Linked DNA regions of Homo sapiens: region 2 is linked to region 1. The links come from fine-mapping of genetic effects on gene expression. A gene starts in region 1. The other region holds a variant in brackets. All regions are shown on one strand. Distances are from middle to middle.

What was found. PIP is the estimated chance that this variant, and not a neighbour inherited with it, causes the effect.
Region 2: its variant is fine-mapped to the expression of NFXL1 in whole blood (INTERVAL, PIP 0.98).

Annotation. Positions count from the first base shown.
Region 1 is chr4:47,910,562-47,918,852 of GRCh38, forward strand. NFXL1 (nuclear transcription factor, X-box binding like 1) reads right to left here and starts at 4,022. Exons shown (of 23, transcript NM_001278624.2): 1 at 3,804-4,022; 2 at 3,408-3,644; 3 at 263-433. The coding sequence starts at 3,642. It overlaps LOC101927157 (a long non-coding RNA gene), which reads left to right and starts at 3,666. Exons shown (of 3, transcript NR_125879.1): 1 at 3,666-4,143. RefSeq lists enhancers at 2,890-3,576, 3,577-4,262, 3,773-4,002.
Region 2 is chr4:47,988,719-47,997,009 of GRCh38, forward strand. All of the region lies in intron 2 of CNGA1 (cyclic nucleotide gated channel subunit alpha 1), which reads right to left. LOC101927157 (a long non-coding RNA gene) reads left to right here. Exons shown (of 3, transcript NR_125879.1): 3 at 948-2,019. Among named protein-coding and RNA genes, the nearest start is that of CNGA1, 24 kb to the right of the region's middle. The variant T/G (reference allele first, on the strand shown) is at 3,723.

The DNA.
Region 1 (8,291 bases):
TTCTACTGAAATGCCAATTAAATACACACAAAGGCCTCCTAAGGCTATAAAAGAGCCACTGCCATTCTATTTGCTTTATAGAAAAATTAGTGTTACACAATATATAACTCAAATACCAAAGTGTACAAAAATTCAACTCTATAACATACAGTGCTCATCTTAAGATATAAAATCTATTCCATATAGAACAAAGGCATTACCAAAAAAATGTCAGGAATACAGTTTCATTGACGTCAAAAGTCAAAATTTAAAAGATCAGTACCTGTCTGAGTAGTGTATGTTATAAACGTATTTGCAAGTATTTTTCCCTGTTTTCCTTCAAAATCTTCATCTCCTTCTTCAGATGAAGAGCTAAACTGTTCTTCAACAAGTTTTCTGGCTGCAGCTTGGTTAGCTTTCTTGATTTCTTCAAATTTTTTCTGAGACATTAGCTCTGTTTAAAAGAAAAAAGTTTCATTTCTGCAAAACAATCTCTCAAAAAGAAAAGCATAATGTGCTAATATATCATTTTACAACACACATTTGAAAGTCACCTTTGGAGCATTCTACCTTCCTGTAATCCACGAGAAAAGTATTTTCAAATTCCTTGACACACAACTAAAGAGAATACCACAACAAAAACTTTCACTTTTCTAAGTATCCTGCTAAAATGCAGCAAATTTTTATGATAACGGTGATTAACAAATCAAGAAAAAAAATATGAAAATACAATAAAACTATCAAAATACTGGTGATCAACTTCAAAATAAGGACTAACAAAAATTAAGATGTTTTAAAGTACATTGTGCACAGTAATTTTTAAGAAGTGAGGGAACATGTCCACAGTGAGCACATAAAGAATCAGGGAAGGTAGGTATTTCAAACTACCGTCTTCTGAACAACAGGTAGGATAGGACACGACGGCCCAGCCCAGTCCAGTCCAGCCCTACCAAAGAGTTTGTACCAACAGTACTCACTATGCACCCACTATATTTACAATCGGCTTCTTAGGTCAAGAACTTTTTGCCTTTATTATGGACTTCTTGTGGTCACACAAAAAAACATATTTTACATTAATCCACACAAAGTATTAACATGGAAAACATGTTTCTTCCAACTTCATTCCAAAAAGAATGTTAATTTTGGATTCGTTCTTCCACTATTCAGCACTACCTGTACTTCTCATTTTGTTACTTGATTAATCATGCAAAACAAAACCAGATTACTTCACTGCACATACTCCCAAAGAAACTTCAAACTTCTTGAGAGCAAGGACCACAGGGATTTTCTTCAAGCACTAAGTGTTAATAAGCTCTTACGGACAGCAAACATAGTTTAAGAAAGGAGCCACAAACCTGCAGAACTGATCTGAGTTCATGAATTCCCATCTTGAGAGGATTTTAAATTTACTGATTGACTATTTTAAAATTAACATTATACTTAAAACTGATAAGCCACTACCAAGATAAGCTCTCTTATCTTGGGTGGTATATTCGTACTTGATTATGTTCCCTCATGAAACATTTTCCTTTTCTTATTGCAGCCAGTTTGGTTAGGGGTTATTAACAAAACAAATTGAGTATTTCAAGTAAACCTCGACGAAAATGTGTATCATGCTTACCTAGCAAGCTTTGAGTACTGGGAAAAAAGAACTGGCTATGAGATATATAACTCAAAACTTGTCACAAAAGAGATGATAAATGTCATTAATATACGGGAAATTAGCACTTAAAAGATACATAAGAAAACAGGCTGAACTGGACAGAGATAATGAGAACATTCATAACCTGATAAATGTATTCACCTAACATCATCTCAAAGTAAAGAGAAGCTGACAAGACAACCTTCTCACGTATTATTTCTTACAGCCAAATCTCAACTGTCCAGGTAGAGAATGCTTGTTTTCTTTTTCTTTTCTTTCTTTTTTTTTTTTTTTTGAGACGGAGTCTTGCTCTGTCGCCCAGGCTGGAGTGCAGTGGGGCAATCTCGGCTACTGCAAGCTCCGCCTCCCGGGCTCACGCCATTCTCCTTCCTCAGCCTCCCGAGTAGCTGGGACTACAGGCGCCTGCCACCCCGCCCGGCTAATTTTTTGTATTTTTAGTAGAGACGGGGTTTCACCCTGTTAGCCAGGATGGTCTCCATCTCCTGACCTCATGATCTGCCCGCCTCGGCCTCCCAAAGTGCTGGGATTACAGGCTTGAGCCACCGCGCCCGGACAGAATGCTTGTTTTCCTTCTACCCACGAGATGGAGACCATCCTGGCTAACACGGTGAAACCCCGTCTCTACTAAAAAAAAAAAACCAAAGAACAAAAAACAAAACATTAGCCAGGCGTGGTGGCAGGCGCCTGTAGTCCCAGCTACTCGGGAGGCTGAGGCCGGAGAACGGCCTGAACCCAGGAGGCAGAGCTTGCAGTGAGCCGAGATTGCGCCACTGCACTCCAGCCTGGGCGACCAGCGAGACTCTGTCTCAAAAAAAAAAAAAAAAAAAAAAAGTTTACCAAACCTGTTCACACGTCTCCATATTGTATACCTTATCATCACGGCCATTAACTGCATGCTAAGAGAATACCACCTACCTTTCAAATTAGCCTAGGAGAAAAATCATTCAAGATACTCAATTCTGCTCCACACCCCCCAAAAAAATGTATCCTGAAATGCATTCCAAACACAAAAATAAAATGATTTCAGGGATTATTCCCTCGGCCCCATGCACAATTGTGTGTAAGTCCTCCCTGGCTCCACGAAAACATGGTCTTGGATGAAAAGTATTGATATATCGGAGGCAACACCAGATATGTCCACAGAAGGACATGGAATTTGTAAATAGGAACTACAGTCAAGGAAGGTATCAAAAGCTCAAGTGCTTACAAGGAATAAGACAAGTCAAGAAACAAAGGCAAAGGTAAAGATGACAAATGACACCTGGCTCCAGAAATGAGAGAGAATGTGAGATGGAATGCCCAAGTCCAATCTAAATGGGATTTCTGTGACTCAGCCGAGCTGACTGTTGCCATGCACAAAGATAACTAAAGCCACAAGGTTGTTAACCAGATTTTTAAAAACGACAAACAACCGCTGACAATCAATCCACATTTAAAACTCTGTGTTAACCAAACAACATTATAGACCAAATCAGAACACCGGGCCACAATTTACAACTGATGGTCTGGAGATTCAAGTAGGCAAGAGTGGAGGGAAGTAACAAAGGTAATACCACCTAAAATTAAGATGAAAGAGGTGCGATGGAAATCTACCTAGAGTGCCGAAAAGAGCAGCCACCCGAAAGGCTGGAGAAGTGGGCCCGATAACAAACTCCCGAACGAGGGGAAAAGCAGTGAAAGAAAGAAGGCGAGGGCGGAGGCGGTCCTGACTAGTAACTGCCTTAGGAGGCATCCAGGTGAGCACGCGGGCGGGAGCCATTCTCACCGCTGGCTGCGGTAGTCTGCAGGGCTTGGGATCCTGCGGGGCTGTGCCTGCTCCCTGCAGCCGCCGTGGTCGCGACTCCTCCGGGACTGGTGCCAGAAGGAACTGCGCCCACCGACCCCTTCTCTCGCCCTCCTCCGGCGCCGCGGAGATGGACTCCATTTCCTGAGGGGGCGGCAGTGGCCCGTCCCCGGGATCGGCCTCGGCCACCGGCCACCTGGCGCCAGGAAGCTTCCATCCCTGCAAAGGAGAAAAAAAAAAAAAAGAGTGGAAGGAGGTGAGCGCAGCGAGGACCGAGGCGAAGGAGGGTCAGTGCGGAAACCCGGTGTGAGGGGCCGAGTGAGGAAGGTTCCTGCAGGGCGGCGACCGGGTTTTAGGAGGTCGCGGCCCTGCCTTTACCGGAGGGCGAGTCCCCGCCAAGCCCGGGCTTTGGAGATGGACCGAAGAGGGGAGGGAGGACTAGGTACAGAAATAAACCGCGGAGCAAGAAGCACACAGTGCCGAAGACAGAAAGCCGGAGGAGAAGTCGAAACCGCCTCCTCAGCCTCTGCGGGAGCGTGGTAGGGGAAGAGTCACAGACTGACCCTGCGTCTCCCGCCGGGAACCAACTGCAGTGGTACACCCCACGGAAAGCTACGTCTCCTTACCGACTGCGCACGCCCCCAACAGACTACAACTCCCAGAAGCCCCCGCCCGCGTTCCGGCGACTGCGTGGCAGCACGGGCCGCTTCCTTATCCGGTAAAGTGCGGGGGTTGGGTGGGAGGGAAACCCCAAGCGCCTGCGCTGGCCCGAACAGGCCTTTGGGAACTACAACTCCCGGCGTGCTCTGGGGCTAGGGAGGGGTCGAAGGTCATAGGGGCGCGTGGTGGTGGAGGCGGGCGGGTCCGGAGGGTTTCGTGACCCCACAATTTGCTTCTGCTTCTGCAAGACTGCCCTAAACTCACCTGGGTATGAGGATTACATGGCTCTGTCCCTAATTGGCTCTCTGCCATCTTTTATTAGCCTTGCCTTTGAGCTTGCGGATGACAGGAGGTGTCAATGTAAAATAATCAAAAGCGCGAAGTTTGAGGATAGCCTACCTAGAAACACCGACTCCAAGGAAGGAGTCAGCGTTCCGAAGTAGAGATTTAAGATTTCACTTATATAGGCAGAAACTGAGAGGTTTTTTAGCAGGATTACAGCATTTTCTCATACAAGGTTAGAGAATAGTTACAACAATTTGATTATAGACAGTGTTTCTTTTTGGGAAGTGTACATTTAACATTTTTCATAAAGGATTTTCTGTCATCTGGTCTAAGCAAACCGGGGCAACAAAGCAGAAGTTAATCTATAAGGATCATTAAGAAGGCAGGAAGTTTTTGTCCTTAACTTCGTTTAATTCTCTCTAGCCATTGTATAGAACAAGAAAAATAAGAAAGCAAGTTAATCTATAATCTGAGAAACAGAAGTTGTAACCACGTGTAACTCAGATGACAGTCACATCTCTCTCCAGGCTTAGTGAGTTTTAGGCTCCAACAACCTTTAAACTATTTATTTTCATAGGGAAGTCTCACTAACAGGAAAGGCACTTACATTGAAAACGCTTTGAGGTTGGCCACTGTGAAGGAGGGAAATTCGGGGGAGAGTTGCAGGAAAGTGGCTTGAGTAGTAAAAGTACCCTTCTAAAATGCTAGAGCCAATGTAGAAAATAAATCTAAAGCCTGTTATTGTCATAGTCCTTTGTAGTGTGCAATGAGCTTTCCCTGGGACATGCTAATTTTTACCTTCACAGCATCTCCCTAAAGTAGATTTTGTTAAGGAAAATAGTTGAGGGCCAGGACCTAAATCTTATGATTTTGCTGAGTTTTCCAATAAGATACATGTGCATATATACTGACAGGTAGATTGCAAAAATTCATTCTGGGGTCTGTCTGGGATTGAGAAACATATTGATGGCTTATTGTACAGTCCTTCAACTTAGTTAATTCTTCTATTTTAACCATAAATTTCTATTATAATATTTAGATAGCATTTATTAGATGTCAGGCACTGTTTAAAGTGTTTTACGTTATGTATTAACTAATTTGGTACTCACAGTAACCGTGTTTATTATCCCCGTTTTACAACTGAGAACACTGAGGCACAGAGAGATTAAGCAATTTGCCCTTGATCATACAGCTAGGAAGTAGTGAAGCCAAGATTCAATCCTAAGTAGTCTAGTATTAGAAACCATGCTTTTAATGTCTTAAACATAGATATTGCAGAATTGCCTGTACATTAACCAAACTCAAAAATGACATCCCATGGCCAGGCATGGTGGCTCACGCCTGTAATCCTAGTACTTTGGGATGCCAAGGCGGGTGGATCACCTTAGGTCAGGAGTTTGAGGCAAGCCTGGCCAACATGGCGAAACCCTGTCTCTATTAAACATACAAAAATTAGCTGGGCATGGTGGTGGGTGCCTATAATCACAGCTACTAGGGAGGCTGAGGCAGGAGAATTGTTTGAACCCAGGGGGCGGAGGTTGTAATGAGCCAAGATCGCGCCACTTCACTCCAGCCTGGGCAAAAGAGCAAAACTCCGTCTCAGAAAAATGAAAAGAAGAAAAGAAATAACATCTCTGAGAATGATATAACTTCATTGGCTAGAAACTAACAGGTGCACAGCAACTCTCTTAATGCTGCACTTGTATAAGAACTGTAAGTTTAAAGCTGCAACCAGCTTTCAAAGTTTGAAAACCCTAAAGTGAGACTTTTCTTCAGTGGGGTTTTCACATACAGGAAAGGAGCTGTTATACTCTGAGAGAGAATATAGTAATTATCACTGAGTAATGTCCAAGAAGTATTGAGTGGCTACTAAAAAGAGAGATCCTTCTTAGAATTATGTTATATGCCAGAGAGCTGGACTAGCATATTATCTAAATTTCCATGTCAAACTTTATTGAGAAATTTTTTCTGTTCCCTCAAATATTCAATAGCTAATAACAGTGACCAGCAATCCTTGAGTGCTTTCTATGTGCCAGCATTCTTCTAGGTCCTTTTTTCTTTTACTCATCTAATCTTCACAATAACCATGAAGTAGGTATTGTTATCGTCAAAACAATTTTTTTTTATTATACTTTAAGTTCTAGGGTACGTGTGCACAATGTGCAAGTTTCTTACATAGGTATACATGTGCAATGTTGGTTGGCTGCACACATCAACTTGTCATTTACATTAGGTATTTCTCCTAAAGCTATCCCTCCACCAGCCCCCCACCCTGCAACAGGCCCTTGTGTGCGATGTTCCCCTCCATGTGTCCATGTGTTCTCAGTGTTCAACTCCCACTTATGAGTGAGAACATGTGGTGTTTGGTCTTCTGTCCTTGTGATATTTTGCTGAGAATGATGGTTTCCAGCTTCATCCATGTCCCTGCAAAGGACATGAACTCATCCTTTTTTATGGCTGCATAGTATTCCATGGTGTATATATGGCACATTTTCTTTATCCAGTCTATTATTGATGGACATTTGGGTTGGTTCTAAGTCTTTGCTATTGTGAATAGTGCCTCAGTAAACATGCCTGTGCATGTATCTTTATAGTAGCATGATTTATAATCCTTTGGGTATATACCCAGTAATGGGATTGCTGGGTCAAATGGTATTTCTAGTTCTAGATCCTTGAGGAATCGCCACACTGTCTTCCACAATGGTTGAAATCATTTACACTCCCAAGAACAGTGTGAAAGCATTCCTATTTCTCCACATCTTCTCCAGCATCTGTTGTTTCCTGACTTTTTAATGATTGCCATTCTAACTGGCGTGAGATGGTATCTCATTGTGGTTTTGATTTGCATTTCTCTGATAACCAGTGATGATGAGCATTTTTTCATATGTCTGCTGGCTGCATAAATGTCTTCTTTTGAGAAGCGTCTATCCATATATTTTGCCCACTTTTTGATGGGGTTGTTTTTTCTTGTACTTTTGTTTAAGTTCTTTGTAGATTCTGGATATTAGCCCTTTGTCAGATGGATAGATTGCAAAAATTTTCACCCATTCTGTAGGTTGCCTGTTCACTCTGATGATAGTTTATTTTGCTGTGCAGAAGCTCTTTAGTTTAATTAGATCCCATGTGTCTATTTTGGCCTTTGTTGCCATTGCTTTTGGTGTTTTAGTTATGAAGTCTTTGCCCGTGCCTGTGTCCTGAATTGCATTGTCTAGGTATTCTTTTAGGGTTTTTATGGTTTTAGGTCTTACATTTAAGTCTTTAATCCATCTTGAGTTAATCTTTGTGTAAGGTGTAAGGAAGGAATCCAGTTTCAATTTTCTATATATGGCTAGCCAGTTTTCCCAGCACCATTTATTAAATAGGGAATCCTTTCCCCATTTCTTGTTTTTGTCAGGTTTGTCAAAGATCAGATGGTTGTAGATGTGTGGTGTTGTTTCTGAGGCCTCTGTTCTGTTCTATTGGTCTATCTCTCTGTTTTGGTACCAATGCCATGCTGTTTTGATTACTGTAGCCTTGTAGTATAGTTTGAAGTCTGGTAGCCTGATGCCTCCAGCTTTGTTCTTTTTGCTTAGGATTGTCTTGGCTATGTGGGCTCTTTTTTGGTTCCATATGAACTTTAAAGTAGTTTTTTCCAATTCTGTGAGGAAAGTCAGTGGTAGCTTGATGGGGATAGCATTGAATCTATAAATTACCTTAGGCTGTATGGCCATTTTCACGATATTGAGTCTTCCTATCCATGAGCATAGAAGGTTCTTCCATTTGTTTGCGTCCTCTTTTATTTCGCTGAGCAGTGGTTTGTAGTTGTCCTTGAAGAGGTCCTTCACATCCCTTGTAAGTTGTATTCCTAGGTATTTTATTCTCTTTGTAGTAATTGTGAATGAGAATTCACTCATGATTTGGCTCTCTGTTTGTCTGTTCTTG
Region 2 (8,291 bases), 78 kb after region 1:
TCAAATTGCCTCCTCAAAATAGCTAATGTGAGTCAATATATTCATTCATTCAGTGTACATTTATTTAGTACCTATTAACTCTTCCTCATTAAAAGACCTCAATTTGAGTCCACAGTACAGTCATCCCTAGGTATACGTGGTGATCGGTTTGGTTGAAAAAAATCCACATATAAGCGGACCCATGTAGTTCAAGCCCAAGTTGTTCAAGGGTCAACTTTAAATAGAATGTACAGGATTAAGAAAATGCTATTGTTCTTAGTTTTAAAAAAAAAAAGGATATTACATGCTAGACACTGGGCAAGGGAGTGTTCATTAGATCCCCTACTGTGAAAAGCAATTTGCCTAGTCAAGAGTATCACCTTGGGACATTAGACAAACTTTGGTTAAAATTTCAAATTTTCTACTTGCTTAGCTGTGTTACTTAGGTCAAGTTACGTCCTTCATGATTTCTTAATTAAATGATCAATCTAATGTGTAAACTGCCAAAAATGAGGTGCTCCATCTATGGTTAGATTCCTGCTAATGAGCAAACTATCTTTGGTTATAATTTAACTTCTCAGGTAGATTTGTTTACAGGGAAACTCATTAGTTACAGAACATGAGCATCCAATCTGTAAAACCAGACCCTTGAAAGTTAATTTTATATGAAATCTGTCCAGAATCCCTTAATCACTGAACAAGTAAATAAAATAAAATTTTGATCACACACAATTCTACCTCTGGGAGTTGTACACTTACCAGGGTACCATCATTCTACGGTAACTGAAATTTCAAGCCCCCTCATAAATTACTAACCATTATAAAATAAGTAAATTATTTATTATTGTGTCTGAATTTAAATGACCTTGAAAACTGATAAAATTTTGGTCAGTCTTAAAGATCTAAGAAAAGTTAAATAATCAAAATTTAGCACCTGATTTAAAAAAAAATTTTTTTTGTTTCCGTAGGTTATTGGGGAAGCTGGTGGTGTTTGGTTACATGAGTAAGTTCTTTTGTGGTGATTTGTGAGATTTCATTGCACCCATTGCCCAAGCAGTATACACTGAACCCTATTTGTAGTCTTTGCTCCCTCACCCCCTTCCCACCCTTTCCCCCTGATTCCCCAAGTCCATTGTGTCATTCTTATTGCGGGAAGTCAAGAACCCCAAACGGAGGGACCAGCTGAAGCTGCAGCAGAAGAACATAAATTGTGAAGATTTCATGGACATTTATTAGTTCCCAGAATTAATACTTTTATAATTTCTTATGCCTGTCTTACTTTAATCTCTTAATCCCATCATCTTCATAAGCTGAGGATGTGTGTTGCCTCAGGACCCTGTGATGATTGCATTAACGGTACAAATTGTGTGTAAAACATATGTGTTTGAACAATATGAAACTGATTGTAAAACATGGGTGTTTGAACAATATGAAATCAGTGCACCCTGAAAAAGAACAGAATAACAGTGATTTTCAGGGAACGAGGGAGGATAAAGGTCTGACTGCCTGTGGGGTCAGGCAGAATACAGCCATATTTTTCTTTCTGCAGAAAGCGAGTAGGAGAAATATCACTGAATTCTTTTCTCAGCAAGGAATAAACCTGGGGAAGGAATGCATTCTTGGGGGGAGGTCTATAGATGGCCACTCTGGGAGTGTCTGTCTTATGCGGTTGAGATAAGGGCTGAAATACGCCCTGGTCTCTTGCAGTACCCTCAGGCTTACTGGGATTGGAAAATTCCAGCCTGGTAAATTCTAGTCAGACCAGTTCTCTGCTTTCGAACCCTGTTTCCTGTTAAGATGTTTATCAAGACAATGCATGCACAGTGGGACATAGACCTCCATCAGTATTTCTAATTTTGCCTTGCCTTGTGATCTTTATTGCCCGTTGAAGCATGTAATCCTTGTGACCTACTCCCTGTTTGTACACCCCCTCCCTTTCTAAAATCCCTAATAAAAACTTGCTGATTTTGCGGCTCGGCGTCACCATCATGGTCCTACTAATATGTGATGGCACTCCCGGAGGCCCAGCTGTAAAATTTCTCTCTTTGTACTCTTTTTCTTTATTTCTCAGACCAGCCAACACTTAGGGAAAATAGAAAGAACCTACGTTGAAATATGGGGGCTGGTTCCCCCAAAACATTCTTATGCTTTTGCATCCTCATAGCTTAGCTCCCACTTACGAGCGAGAATATACAATATTTGGTTTCCCATTCCTGAGTTACTTCACTTAGAATAATAGTCACTAATCTCATCTAGGTAGCCATGAATGTCATTAATTCATTCCTTTTTATGGTTGAGTAGTATTCCATTATATATATATACATGTATATACACCATGATCTCTTTATCCACTCATTGATTCATGGGCATTTGGACTGATTCTATGTTTTTTGCAATTGCAAATTGTGCTGCTATAAGCATGAGTGTGCAAGTATCCTTTTTGTATAACAACTTCTTTTCCCCTGGGTAGATACCGAGTACTGGGATTGCTGGATCAAATGGCAGTTCTACTTTTATTTCTTTAAGGAATCTCCACACTGTCTTCCATAGTGATTGCACTAATTTACATTCCCACCAGCAGTGTAGAAATGTTCCCTCTTCACCGCATCCATGCAAACATCTACTATTTTCTGATATTTTGATTATGGCCATTCTTGCAGGAGTAAGATGGTATTGCATTTCGCATTGTGGTTTTGATTTGCATTTCCCTGATCATTCGTGATGTTGAGCATTTTTTCATATGTTTGTTTGCCATTTGTATATCTTCTTTTGAGAATTGTCTATTCATGTTCTTAGCCCACTTTTTGATGGAATTGTTTGTTTTTTTCTTGCTGATTTGTTTGACTTCATTGTAGATTCTGGATATTAGTCCTTTGTCAGATGTATAGATTGTGAAGATTTCCTCCCACTCTGTGGGTTGTCTGTTTACTCTGCTGACTGTTCCTTTTGCCAGGTAAAAGCACTTTAGTTTAATTAAGTCCCAACTATTTATCTTTGTTTTTATTGCATTTGCTTTTAAGTTCTTGGTCATGAAAACTCTGCCTAAGCCAATGTCTAGAAGGATTTTTTCAATGTTATCTTCTAGAATTTGTATAGTTTCAGGTCTTAGGTTTAAGTCTTTAATCCATCTTGAGTTGATTTTTATATAAGGTGGGAGATGAGGATGAACTTTTATTCTCCTACATGTGGCTAGCCAATTATCCAAGCACCATTTGTTGAAAAGGATGCCCTTTCCCCACTTTATGTTTTTGTTTGCTTTGTTGAAGATCAGTTGGCTGCAAGTATTTAGGCTTATTTCTGGGTTTTCTATTCTGTTCCATTGGTCTATGTGCCTATTTTTATGCCAGTATCATGCTGTTTTGGTGACTATGGCCTTATAGTATAGTTTGAAATCAGGTAATGTGATGCCTCTAGACTTGCTCTTTTTGCTTAGTCTTGCTTTGGCTATAAGGGCTCTTTTTTGGTTCCATATGAATTTTAGAATTTTTTTATAGTTCTATGAAGAATGATGGTGGTATTTTGATGGGAATTGCATTAAATTTGTAGCTTGCTTTTGATAGTGTGGTCATTTTCACAATATTGATTCTACCCATCCATGAGCATGGGATGTGTTTCCATTTGTTTGTGTCATCTATGATTTCTTTCAACAGTGTTTTGTAGTTTTCCTTGTAGAGTTCTTTCAACTCTTTGGTTAGGTATATTCCTAAGTATTTTGGTTTTTTTGCAGCTATTGTAAAAAAAAG[T/G]TTGAGTTCTTGATTTGATTCTCAGCTTGGTTGCTGTTGGTGCATAGCAGAGCTACTGATTTGTGTACATTAATTTTGTATCCGGCAATTTTGCTGAATTCTTTTATCAGTTCTATGAGTTTTCTGGAGGAGTCTTTAGGATTTTCTAGGTAAACAATCATACCATCAGCAAACAGTGACAGTTTGACTTCATCTTTACTGATTTGGATGCCATTTATTATTTATTTATTTATTTATTTATTTATTTATTTAGTCTGATTGCTCTGGCTAGGAGTTCCAGTGCTATGTTGAAGAGGAGTGGTGAGAGTGGGCATCCTTGTCTTGTTCCAGTTCTCAGAGGGAATACTTTCAACTTTTCCCCATTCAGTATTATGTTGGCTGTGGGTTTGTCATAGATGGCTTTTATTACATTGAGGTATTTCCCTTGTATGCTGATTTTGCTGAGAGTTTTAATCATAAAAGGATGTTGGATTTTGTTGAATGCTTTTTCTGCATCTATTAAGATGATCATGTGATTTTTGTTCTTAATTCTCTTTATGTGGTGTATCACATTTATTGACTTGCATATGTTAAACCATCCCTACATCCCTGGTATGAAACCAACTTGATCAGGGTGGATTATCTTTTTCATATGTTGTTGGATTCGGTTAGCTAGTATTTTGTTAATTTTAGCATCTACGTTCATCAGGGATATTGGTCTGTAGTTTTCTTTTTTGGTTATATCCTTTCCTGGTTTTGGTATTAGGTTGATGCTGGCTACATAGAATGATTTAGGGAGGGTTCCCTCATTCTCTATCTTGTGGAATAGTGTCAGTAGAATTGGTACCAATTCTTTGAATGTTTGGTAGGAATCTTCTGTGAATCTGTCTGGTTCTGGACTTTTTTGTTGTTGGTAATTTTTAAGTTACCATTTCAATCTCACTGCTTGTTATTGGTCTGTTCAGGTTATCTAATTCTTCCTGATTTAAGCTAGCAGGGTTCTGTCTTTCCAGGAATTTATCCATCTCTTCTAGGTATCCTGGTTTATGTGTGTAAAGGCGTTCATAGTAGCCTCGAATAATCTTTTGTATTTCTGTGATGTCAGTTGTAATATCTCTCATTTCATTTCTTATTGAGCTTTTTTGGATTTTCTCTCTTCTTTTCTTGGTTAATCTTGCTCATGGTCTATCAATTTTATTTATTTTTTCAAAGAATCAGTTTTTTGTTTCATTTATCTTTTGTATTGGGGGTTCAATTTCATTTATTTATGCTCTGATCTTGCTTATTTCCTTACTTCTGCTGGTTTTGGGTTTGGTTTTTTTCTTGTTTCTCTAGTTCCTTGAGGTGTGACCTTAGATTGTCTGTTTGTGCTCTTTCAGACTTTCTGATGTGTTTGGGGCTTTGAATTTCCTGTTAGCACCACCTTTGCTGTATCCCAGATGTTTTGATAGATTGTGTCACTATTGTCGTTCAGTTCAAAGAATTTTCAAATTTCCATCTTGATTTCACTTTTGACCCAGTGATCATTCAGGAGCAGGTTATTTAATTTCCATGATTTGCATGGTTTTGAAGGTTTCTTTTGGAGTTGATTTCCGGTTTTGTTTCACTGTGGTCTGAGAGTGCCTGATATAATTTCAATTTTCTTAAATTTATTGAGGCTCATTTTGTGGCCTATCATATTGTCTATCTTGGAGAAAGTTCCATGCACTGTCAAATAGAATGTATATTCTGCAGTTGTTGGAAGGAATGTTCTGTATATATCTGTTAAGTCCATTTGTGCCAGGGTATAGTTTAAATCCATTGTTTCTTTGTTGACTTTCTGTCTTGATGACCTGTCTAGTGCTGTCAGTGGAGTACTGAAGTCTCCCACTACTATGGTGTTGCTGTCTATCTCATTTCTTAAGTCTATTAGTAATTGCTTTATAAATTTGGGAGCTCCAGTGTTAGGCGCATATATGTTTAGGATTGTGATAGTTTCCTGTTGGACAAGGCCTTTTATCATTATATAATGTTCCTCTTTGTCTTTTTAACTGCTGTTGCTTTAAAGTTTGTTTTATCTGATGTAAGAATCCTGCCTGCTTTTGGTGTCATTTTGCATGAAACGTCTTTTTCCACCCCTTTATCTTAAGTTTATGTGAGTCCTTATGTGTTAGGTGAGTCTCCTGAAGGCAACAGACAGTTGGTTGGTGAATTCTTATCCATTCTGTAATTCTTTATCTTTTAAGTGGAGCATTTTGGCCATTTACATTCAATGTTAGTATTGAGATGTGAGGTGCCATTCCATTCATTGTACTACTTGTTGCCCATATACTTTGGTTTTTTGTTTTTTAAATTGTATTTTTGTTTTATAGGTTCTGTGAGATATATGCTTTAAAGAGGTTCTGTTTGATGTGTTCCCAGGATTTGTTTCAATATTTAGAGCTCTTTTTAGCAGTTCTTGTAGTGGTGACTTGGTAGTGGTGAATTCTTTCAGCTTTTGTTTATCTGAAAAAGACTGTATCTTTCCTTCATATATGAAGCTTGGCTTCACTGGATACACAATTGTTGGCTGATAATTGTTTTGTTTGAGGAGGCTGAAGATAGATAGAATCCCTTCTAGCTTGTACAGTTTCTGCTGAGAAATCTGCTATTAATCTGATAGGCTTTCCTTTATAGGCTACCTGGTGCTTTTGTCTCACAGCTCTTAAGATTCTTTCCTTTGTCTTAATTTTAGATAACCTGATGACAATGTGCCTAGGTGATGATCTTTTTGTGATGAATTTCCTAGGTGTTCTTTGTGCTTCTTGTATTTGGATGTCTAGGTCTCTAGCAAGGCCATGGAAATTTTCCTAGATTCTTCTCCCAAATATGTTTTCCAAACTTTTAGAATTCTTAGATTTGGTTGGTTAACATAATGCCAGACTTGTTGGAGGCTTTGTTCATATTTTCTTATTCTTTTTTGTCTTTGTTGGATTGGATTAATGCAAAGACCCTGTCTTCAAGCTCTAAATTTCTTTCTTCTACTTGTTTAATTATGTTGCTGAGATTTTCCAGAGCATTTTGCATTGCTCTAAGTGTGTCCATTGTTTCCTGAAGTTTTGATTGCTTTTTATTCTTGCTATCTATTTCATTATTTCTCCCTTCACTTCTTGTATCATTTTTTTTTATTTCCTTAAATTGGGCTTCATCTTTCTGTGGTGTCTCCCTGATTAGCTTAATAACTAACCCCCTGAATTCATTTTCAGGTAAATCAGGGGTTCTTCTCAGCTTGGATCCATTGCTGGTGAGCTAGTGTGATTTTTGGGGGGTGTTAAAGAACATTGTTTTTTTATATTACCAGAGTTGGTTTTCTGGTTCCTTCTCATTTGGGTTGGCTCTATCAAAGGAAAGGTCTAGGGCTGAAGGCTGTTGTTCAGATTCTTTTGCCCCACAGGGTGTTCCCTTGATGTAGTACTCTCACCCTTTTCCTATGGATGTAGCTTCCTGAGAGCCAAGCTGTAGTGATTATTATCTCTCTTCTGGATCTAGCCACCCAGCAAGTCTACCAGGCTCTGGGCTGGTACTAGGGGTTGTCTGCACAGAGTCCTGTTACATAAACCATCTGTGGGTCTCTCATCTGGGGATACCAGTACAGTATTTGGAGTGTTTCCTGGGTCCTGAAGGAGCAATCCACTTCCTTCAGAGAGGTCTCTGGGTACTCCCAGGTTTCCTGATTTATTCCTACAGTCATTCTGGTGCAAAAATTCATGACACGAGCCTCCACACACTGCTCTGTCTATCTGAGTCAGAGCTGCAATCTAGTCCTGCCTCCCATCCACCATGATCCCTCCTCTTAGGGAGTAAGTCCTCCAGCCCTCAGCATGATTGGGGTGGCCTCAGAGACTTGCAACTGATGTTGATAGCTCCTTGGAATATTGGAAATTTAGTGGACTTGAGATTTGCATCCTGGTTTAGATTTTGCATCCTGGTTTGCTAATTTAGATTTGCATCCTGGTTTGCTAATTTCTGACAGCACTGTAGCCTTGGGAAAATTATTTAACTGCCCTGAACCTTGTTGTTGCCATTTTTTATTAGCATAATGGGAATAGATTCTTCTAATCAAGGTATGGTAAATAGAAATGATTGACATAAAACTCTTCACACCAGGCCTGGCACAAATTGAGTCCTTAATTACAGTAAATATTAAGATTATTATTATTTTCCTGTGAGATAGTTCCTGGAGCTTATTATTAAATAATTCATTGTAATTGTATTAAGTTTCTGGTTAAATAACATAATCAAATACAAAGGGCTCAAAGAAATCCAGAGTAAGGAAAAAAAATTATTGGGGAAGAGAGTATGGTTGTACCTGAAAATTTTAAGATTTTAAGTCTTTTAGGGGCTGGGCACAGTGACTCATGCCTGTAATCCTAGCACTTTGGGAGGCCGAGGTGAGTGGATCACCTGAGGTCAGGAGTTTGAGATCAGCCTGGCCAACATGGTGAAACCTGCATCCCTACGAAAATTTAAAAAATTAGCTGGGCTTGGCACACATCTGTAGTCCCCCAGCTACTCAGGAGGCTGAGGCAGGAGAATCACTTGAACCCAGGAGGTGGAGGTTGCAGTGAGCCA